2 separate regions of the Homo sapiens genome follow, and region 2 is linked to region 1. Evidence: fine-mapped expression QTL. A gene starts in region 1. The other region holds a variant in brackets. All regions are shown on one strand. Distances are from middle to middle.

The links. PIP is the estimated chance that this variant, and not a neighbour inherited with it, causes the effect.
Region 2: its variant is fine-mapped to the expression of SLC26A3 in testis (GTEx, PIP above 0.99).

Annotation. Positions count from the first base shown.
Region 1 is chr7:107,800,610-107,805,013 of GRCh38, forward strand. SLC26A3 (solute carrier family 26 member 3) reads right to left here and starts at 2,614. Exons shown (of 21, transcript NM_000111.3): 1 at 2,502-2,614.
Region 2 is chr7:107,780,255-107,784,658 of GRCh38, forward strand. SLC26A3 (solute carrier family 26 member 3) reads right to left here. Exons shown (of 21, transcript NM_000111.3): 9 at 2,951-3,098; 10 at 2,726-2,839; 11 at 2,543-2,620. Among named protein-coding and RNA genes, the nearest start is that of SLC26A3, 21 kb to the right of the region's middle. The variant T/C (reference allele first, on the strand shown) is at 1,921.

The sequences.
Region 1 (4,404 bases):
TAACCATTTTTCCCTCTTTTGTTAGGTCCTATGACATAGTAAGTATACAAGAAAGTTTGTTGAAATAAACTGAACTATGAGCAAAAGATATATAAATGACGTAGACCTAAACTCCAAAGTTTACATACACAGGAGAAGTGCCCAAAATAATTGGTGCAGATAATAAATTGGAAGAAGGGATGTAAATGTGGGTTGGAGTTAGGAAGGTTTTGTGAAGGAACTGTGAGTCTTGTGTTAGACTTTAAAGAACAGATAGGTTTGGCAGGGGTGATGACAAAGCAGTGGGCAATAAGCAAATCATGTGAAAGGTTATTGAGAGTTCCAAACACTGAAACAGAAGGCTTTGTTGGCCCATAGGCTAAACCATTAGAGAAATGTTGGGATGCACCATAGCAAGGGATTTCACACCCAGTAGGCTCACAGCAGGCAAAAGAGAATCCCTGGCCATTTCTGTAAGGCTTTGAGATTTTCTGAGCACTTTCACTTTTCTTCCTTGAGTATTACTGTGGATGGAGGCAGACAAGATAGGCTGTATTGTCGCTAATTTACAGATGAAGAAATGGAGATGAGAGAAGATAAATGACTTTCTCAACTTCCCAGAGCCAGGATGAGAAGCCACATCTAGTGAATAACTGACTCTCTCCACTACGTCTTCTTCTCTGCTACATATTCAATGTCAGGGGTCTCAGCCCCTACCCCCAAGAGAGACAAGGTAAAAGAACAAGGTGAGGCACCATCAGGGTCCTTGCTTTTGAGCATGAAAGCCTCACACTCCTACACTCAATATCCACAACACAAAACATGAGCCTGGTGGCCTGGGGACAAATCTCCTTGAGGTGACTTGCTTTATTCTTCCCCTTGCTTCTCAACAAAGTGACACAGAGGCTAGAGGAGCCTCTTCTCTTCTCTTTGGAGAATCAAAGACCTTTATTGTAGAGAAGCACCAGACTGTGTTATTACATATTTATTCTTGTAATTGAAAAATATTCATTCTCATTTTCTGAACGATTTTGTTTCTTAGTCGAATATGAGCTGTTTAGGAGGTATTAAACATTTGTTCATTTCTTTATATACTTACTTATTCCCTTATCCAGAGGGAGAAGGCAAAGTATGTATTGTGTTACCCCATTTTTCTTGTTTCTGAAATCAAATTAGTTGCTTCCTAAATTTTCATTAGGAATAATCCTTGGCCGGATGGGGTGGCACATGCCTGTAATCCTAGCACTTTGGGAGACTGAGGTGGGAGGATCACCTGAGGTCAGGAGTTCGAGACCAGCCTGGCCAACATGGCGAAACCCCGTCTCTACTGAAAATACAAAAAAAAAAAAAAAAAAATGCCAGGCACAGTGGAGCGTGCCTGTAGTATCAGCTACTTGGGGGGCTGAGGCAGGATAATCACTTGAACCTGGGAGGCAGAGGTTGCAGTGAGCAGAGATTGTGCCACTGCACTCCAGCCTGGGCGACAGAGTGAGAATCCGTCTCAGAAAAAAAAAAAAAAAAAGGAATGATCTTTATGCAGTCAAATTTCATGACACAGTTTTTCCAAATGACTAACTTACTTCAGAAAAGAGAATTATTTAGTCCAATAATTTGATAAATTGTTCCTCACTTGCATATATAAAGAAAGTTGTATAATCTTTTCCTGACATTTTAAAGAATAAAATAGATTTTATCTTGATAGAGTTAGTAATGTATGGGATAAGTACCCATACATTACTAATGTATTATATTATATTATACTACTTGTGGCATAGGGCATTCTGCTACTTTCCAGTGACCATTTTCTCCCCATCTCTCTTCTCTTTCCAGTCTCTATCCTTCTTACTCTCATTGCCTTTTCTTCTCTCCGTGTTTCCCTTAGTCTTGGACTTTCTAGGATGTCTAGCAGATAAATCTCTCACTTCTAGACCATATGTCCCCTACCCCCTCCCTTTTTTTTTAAGAGACAAGGTCTTGCCATGTTGCCTAGGCTGACCTCAAACTCTTGGGCTAAGCTATCCTCCTGCTTTAGCCTCTTGAGTAGCTAGGACTATAGATACATATCCCTATGCCTGGCTGGGACCAGATGGCCTTTCTGAATCCTTTCTAGTAGGTGATTCTCTCTCCTGGAGAAACTCTTTCCTTAAAGCTTGCTTTTTTTTTTTTTTTTTTTGCCAACCCTCAGAGCAGACAATCTATCTATAAAGTCAGATTTGAGTGGAGAATTAAAGGAATTATCTGAATAATTAAAACAAGAACACTAATATCTTTGAAAAGGCTATTTAAGACTTAATGATGCCTACAACCATTTACTTGTTAAAGTCTACTTAAATATTTATTCTACATTGCTAGCGCTCCAGACATACATGCATATCTTATTAGTGGATTCATTCAAAATATTCACACACATGGAATAAACTCAAGAACATAATAACTCCTAAATAGGCTTTGATCAGAAAAAATACCATTTTCAAGGAACAGAAAACCAGTTTGAATATAACAATCATAAATTTGGTTCCTACCTGACACATACTCTGTGAGGAGCTTCTGCAACAGTGGTACATTTTCAAGATAAAGTTCTAAGTTCTAGTTCTAAGAGGCAGTGTCCATCCACTCAGGTCTACAGGCTCTGTGTGCATCCATATGCATAGGGATGTCTATATATAGGCTATGTAAGACAGTGGACAAATTACCTTTCTGTCAGCTTTAATAATTAACTCTCATTAACTTTTACAACAATGAAAAGACTGCAATGTGGTCTTGACCTTTGAGACTTTGATCAGCAGAAGTGATGATGAAGATTGCTTCCTCAAGTTCCTTGTGAGATTAAACCACCAGTGGGTGGTTTAATGCACTTGTGTGTACGTAATTTCATTGGTTTGCAGAGATTGCACAGCAGATGCTCACGTGTACTTAAAAAAAAAAAGAATCTTCTCAAGGGTTATCTCCTTGACATTTCACCAACCTGTTTAGATGAGAGTTTAGTGGTGGTGTTTTTTGGCTGGATGACTCCATGGAATCTGTCATGGGCTGCAGAAGTGTGGTGTATAGGTTAACTCCTGGTATGATAAAGGCCCTCATTAGGAACACTCACCCAACTCCCAGCCACAGGCCATATCTGCATTCCAATTTCTGCCCCCACCACAGCTCTTCCTAAGAGCAATAAACCCTATGTTGCTAAACACAATGAATACTTTCAACTCTCATCTTACTTAAAAGCATTTGGCATTGCTGACTACACTTTCATGAACTCCTCTTTTTATTTTAAAAATTATTTAACTAATTAGTTAATTTTAGAGATGGGGTATTGCTGTGTTGCCCGGGCTGGTCTCAAACTCCTGGCCTGAAGTGATCCTCCTGCTTTAACCTCCTGAGTAGCTGGGATTAGAGGCCTCAGCCATCATGCCGGGCTAAAATCTTCTCTTCTTGAAATGCTAAAAAAAAATTTTTAACACACTTGTTTTTCACCTCATCCTTTTTGCCAATTTCTCCTCTAACTCTTTCTTTGGCATTTCCTAAGATTCTGTTCTGAATTTCCTTCTCCTCTCTTGCTACCCTCTTACCCTAAATAAGAGTCCTATGGCTCCCAGCAACATTCAGATTTCTAACCCCAGCTCTCTAGGTCCACATATTTAACTGCCTATTCCACATCTTTGCTTGGATGCCTCATAGGCATCTCAAACACGACACATATCGAGATTAAGACCTCTTGATCTTTCCTCCCAAATCTGCTCCATCTCTAGTCTTCCCCATTTCAGTAAAGAATATTCCCCTTTACTCATGTCAGAGACCTGGGAACCATCTCTGACACTTCTTCTTGCAGACCTTCTCCCCACCCGCAGCCAATCCATCCTTAAACCCTATTGAGCATGCCTCCAAAATACATCCCAAAGCCATCACTTTTCTTCATCTTCACTCTTACCTTTGCTGCACTTCTTGCTTCCTCTCGCAGCCCTCCCCATCTCTTTACCACTCATTAATCAGAATGATCTTTTCACACTAGTCCTCTTTGTGGGGCTGATGATTACACAGAGGGAAAACAGGCCTCCAAAGTCTTTGCATGATCTCCCCCTGCACAACTCTCCAACCTCATCTGACTCTGCTCTTACTTTTGTTTTCTCCACTCCCACCATGGTGGCCTCCTGTAGTCCCAAATTTGCCCACTCTTTGCAGACATCATTTTCTCTGCTTAAATGCACTTCTCTCTCTCTCTCGGTTTGGCTGTTACTTAGCTTCAACATCACTTTCTCAAGGAGAACCACTTTGACTTCCTAATCTCAATTAGCCCCTCTTGTGGCATTCTCTCAGAGTATTTTTTTAAGTCCCTTGGTTAATTTGCATGTACTTTTTAAAACATAGCATCATAATTTAAAAATACACAATTATTTACTTGGCTAATGTTTGGCTTTCTCATTAGAATGAAAG
Region 2 (4,404 bases), 20 kb before region 1:
AGTTCCTGCTATATCCCCAGAACCTACTATGTTAAATGCATACAGGAGGGGCTTTAAAATTAGTCAGTGAATGAGTGGCTGAGCCAATGAATGAATATTTCCCAGGCCAGTACTAATCCCTACAGCCAAGCTTCAGACTTCCAATTCTTCCACAGCCAGAATGTGATCTTTTATCTTGCAGGAATTGTGATAGTTAAGGTGAAAAATGCTGAATAGCTAAGTATATTCTCTTCATTCTTTGGATTTTATCGTAATTGTAGGAACATGCCCCTCACCGTCCTGTTCCCCCTGCCAATTTATTTTATTCTGAATGGAGTATGGAATTTGTATACTGCTATACCATGAAAACACAGTGTACAAAGAAAAGCCAAATACAGTTTTTATTTTTATATCTTGAGGACAGTTGAACTGATCTGCCTATTTCTAATTTTCACAGGTAATCCTTATAATATAATATCTAAGCAATTAATTTTACTAACTGTGAGAATAGAGGTCACAGTTTAGAAGAAATATGGTCTTAAGTGACTTTTAAAAAATTTGGCACACAAGTGAATGCCAGTTAAAAAATGGTGAAAATTGAATAAAGTCTGTAATCTACTTAACATACTATACTAATGTATAGTACTGATATTGTACTACAGCTGTGTAAGATGTCACCATTGTGGTAGCTAGGCAAAGAAGTCAGAGGACTGTACAACGGGCCTCTCCATTTTGCAGGACTTTTAATTCTCTAAGTATAAAATATGTCAAGAGACACCTGTGCGAAGAGACTTTTTTTTTCCATTGGGCATTATTTCCCACCTAGTCAGTATTCTACGGAAAAACAATTTGAAGTAATTTACGATGACATACATATACAACAGATTACTTTTAAAGTAAAGATTACAGAGCATTAAGAAATCATAGAAAGGAAAGGGGGATAATTTCCGCAGTAATCTGGTATCCATACTGCATTTGATATAAAGGATTAAATGAAGAGAAAACGCTTAGAGCTCTGCTGACATGCAGTGAGCACTCAATAAATACCTATTATGAGCTTTTATTATGGGTTATTTTGCCTTCATATGATAAAAAGAAGCAAATAGTTATTTGGGTGTTTGAAACAAAGACATTCCTGACCACAATGGCCTAAAAAGAACATATCACAGGACCCTTTATAAAAGGGGCTTTGATTAAATCTTGGACAAGATTTGGTAATTATTTCTTTAGTGTCTCCAAATTGATGTGGGCTAGGTAGAACTCAAGTTTACACCCGGGGAGAAGCATGAGAGGGTGGAGTTCTCTCTGTAGGGGTGAGTGTGTGTGCGTTTATTTTTATTGAGATAACATTCTTCTATTTCTTTAGTGGTGACTTTTTCATTCCTTTTATGCCACTTATTTTGAAATCAGAAGTATAGCCTATGGAGAATGCATATTTTTGGCAAATTGTTCTCTGCCCTGCTTGAAGATGGATTTGGCCATTGAGCTTTTTGAGATGACCACACTGGGAGTCCAGCAACCTGGGACCACAGTCACCGTTCGGCTACCAACCAACAAGGAAAAAAGGCCTAGGTAACAGCCAATAGACATTTGTGGGCTGTATCATATCTCTATGTCTTTTATAGCCAGGAGTGTAATACAATGTAGAATAATAATATTATTAACAATAATGACTATCATTTATCAAGTATTTATCATATGCCAAACCCTCAGCTAAGTAGTTCACATACATGATCTTATTTATTTTTATAGTCACTCTGTGTAGTGGGTATTATTTCCCTTTCTATTTTACAAATGTGGCGCTTGAGGTTCAGCAAGGTTAAGTAATTTGCCCAAAATCACACAGATAATAAGTAGCAGAGCCAGGATTAGAAGGAGGTCAACAGGGCTCCATGTACCACCTCAAAATTATATTAAAACCACAAGGAACAATGTATTTAC[T/C]GTCATCTTGTTTCCTAGAGAGCCTTTGCTTTCCAGGGTCTGATGGTATGTTTTATATCTGAGTGCTGCAGCAGTTTACAAAGTATTAAACTAAACCCTCAAGCTTATAGGCAGAGGAGCATGAGAGTAGGGCTGGGAGGTCTGTGCTGGCTGTTCACTCCCATCCCACAATCCAACAGTGTTGGTCTTGGAGTTAAACCAAAGTTCTAGAAGCTTCAGGGTGTGTTCCTAAGAACGAGTTGTGTGGCTGGTAGGGCCATTCTCTGAATTAGATAGAGGGCCTGATTACCTTAACCTTTAAGAAAACCTCTACTCAGTCCATGCGTGTTGAAAGTGTGGTGCCAGGGTGCCCTCCTATTTCAACATTAATTCTATTTGGGGCTATGCACATGCAAAGTGTAGAGGAGATAAGGCAGGTTGGGCACCTGTGTTCCTAACATTCAGAACATGTTGCCAGGGAAAAAGAAATATTTTTGGCTCATACAGAGTATTGGCTAAGAAGAGTACTTGAGAGTTTGTCATTACCTCATTTCCCCTAGTTTAGTTTGTGCTTTCAGAATTTAAGAACCGGGGTCCTTGATTTACCACTAAAAGTAGAGATGCTATCCAAAGACAGTGTTACCTTTTGTAGAGGCGCCAGGAGAAATCCAATGGCTAGAACGACAATCAGCACGATGATGGCACCAATAAGCCCAGCAATCTGTGAGGATAAAAAAATTATCATCACCAACTCAACTTTTCCCCTGGCTTGAATTTCCTAGTTACTAACGCTAGGACAGTGCTTGCAGCAAAGATCTTGACATACCTGTGTTTTGCCTCCTGTGCTCTCCTGAACTGCTGATCTGGAGAGGGCAGTACTCCCAGCAAATCCTCTGAATACTCCACAGACTATGTTACCCAGTCCCAAGGCTATTAACTCCTGACAGGAAGACAAGAATGAACCTTTTTCAGAAGTGGCACCATTGATATTATGTGTGCAAAATATTATTTAAAGTTGCCCAGTGAGACCCAGTGTAGTTTGTTTACTTACCTGATTGCCATCAAGTGGATAATCGTATTTGAGGGAATAGACGCTGGCAACTGAAAAGGCCACTGCAAATGCAACCATTGCGATGCCGAAGCAATCTCCTACGGTGTTTTGGAAAGTCTCCACGTCAGGTGTAATAGGGGGCTGAAATCTAAAATTGAAATTAAGCAAGTCTGAATGTCACCAACCAATTTATAAACTGATATAACCATTGGGCAAATCAATGAATGAATGCAATCTAGGCTGAGTTGTGTCTCACTTTGGAGTATGATTAACGAGAATTTAGCTCCACTAACAATTTTGCAATCTGCTTTCTTAATGCTGAAAAGCAACACTGCCTGAATTTGGTAAAAGACTGCAAATTCAATCCAAGGATAGTGGTAAATCAGATATGATTTTGCCAGTAAAACCACACTATAATGTGCGTGTGTATTCTTATAAGCTTCCTGCAAAATGTCTTCTATTCCACTTGTATTGTTACACTGGGCTGCAAAGCATCACTCAAAATGCTCCCAATAGTTATCCATACATGAAGTCCTTTGAGCAAACACAATTGTGAGACAAGGAAAGCAAAAAAGTCTTCTTTCCATTGATAATAATAACCTTTCATGGAAAACTCCTGGCAAAGAGATGGGCCTTGGACTCTGCCCTGCACTTCACAGAAATGCTAGAGACAACCATGACCCTAATGGAGAGTGGATTTCTCTTTAAGGTGATATATGTCAGAGAAACCTTCAACTCACAGGGCGTACTTCTGTGCTTAAGCCTCATGAATGTAGACCAGTTCAATTATATTTACTAATTGTATCATAAAAGGTGCATGTATCTTAAACTCAACATCAATTTACTAAAATGTTCCACTCCTATAAGCATATATTTCTGACATCAGACTTATTGGAAGTGGGTTAATTAGGTCCAATCAACTCTTTCTGAATTGCTGTTCCACATTTTGTGAATATCTATGGTAATACATTTTTATCTCTAATTTTGAAGAAGTACTATTATACCATAATTTTGAAGAAGTACTATTATATCTGATGCCATTATAAATCCAAAAGTTAGCTTGGAATGTTTTTGTTTTTTAATAACCAGGATCTTATTATTCTTTTGTTCTGGTCTCTGAACACCATAGACAGAATGATGTGATGAAGATTTACAGTCTAAAGACTTGGGTTCATTTCCTGGCTCTGCCACTTGCCCTTCCCAAGTCACAATTTCCTCATTTGTAGAGTGAGGATAATAAAACTTGTTCTCTGTTTTTTTGAGATGGGGTCTCCTCTTTCCCAGGCTGGAGTGCACAGCTCACTGCAACCTCCACTGTCCAGGCTCAAGAGATCTCCCCACCTCAGCCTCCCAAGTAGCTGGGACTACAGGTGTGTGCCACCACGCCCAGCTAATTTTAGTATTTTTAGTAGAGACAGGGTTTTGCCATGTTGGCCAGGATGGTCTCGAACTCC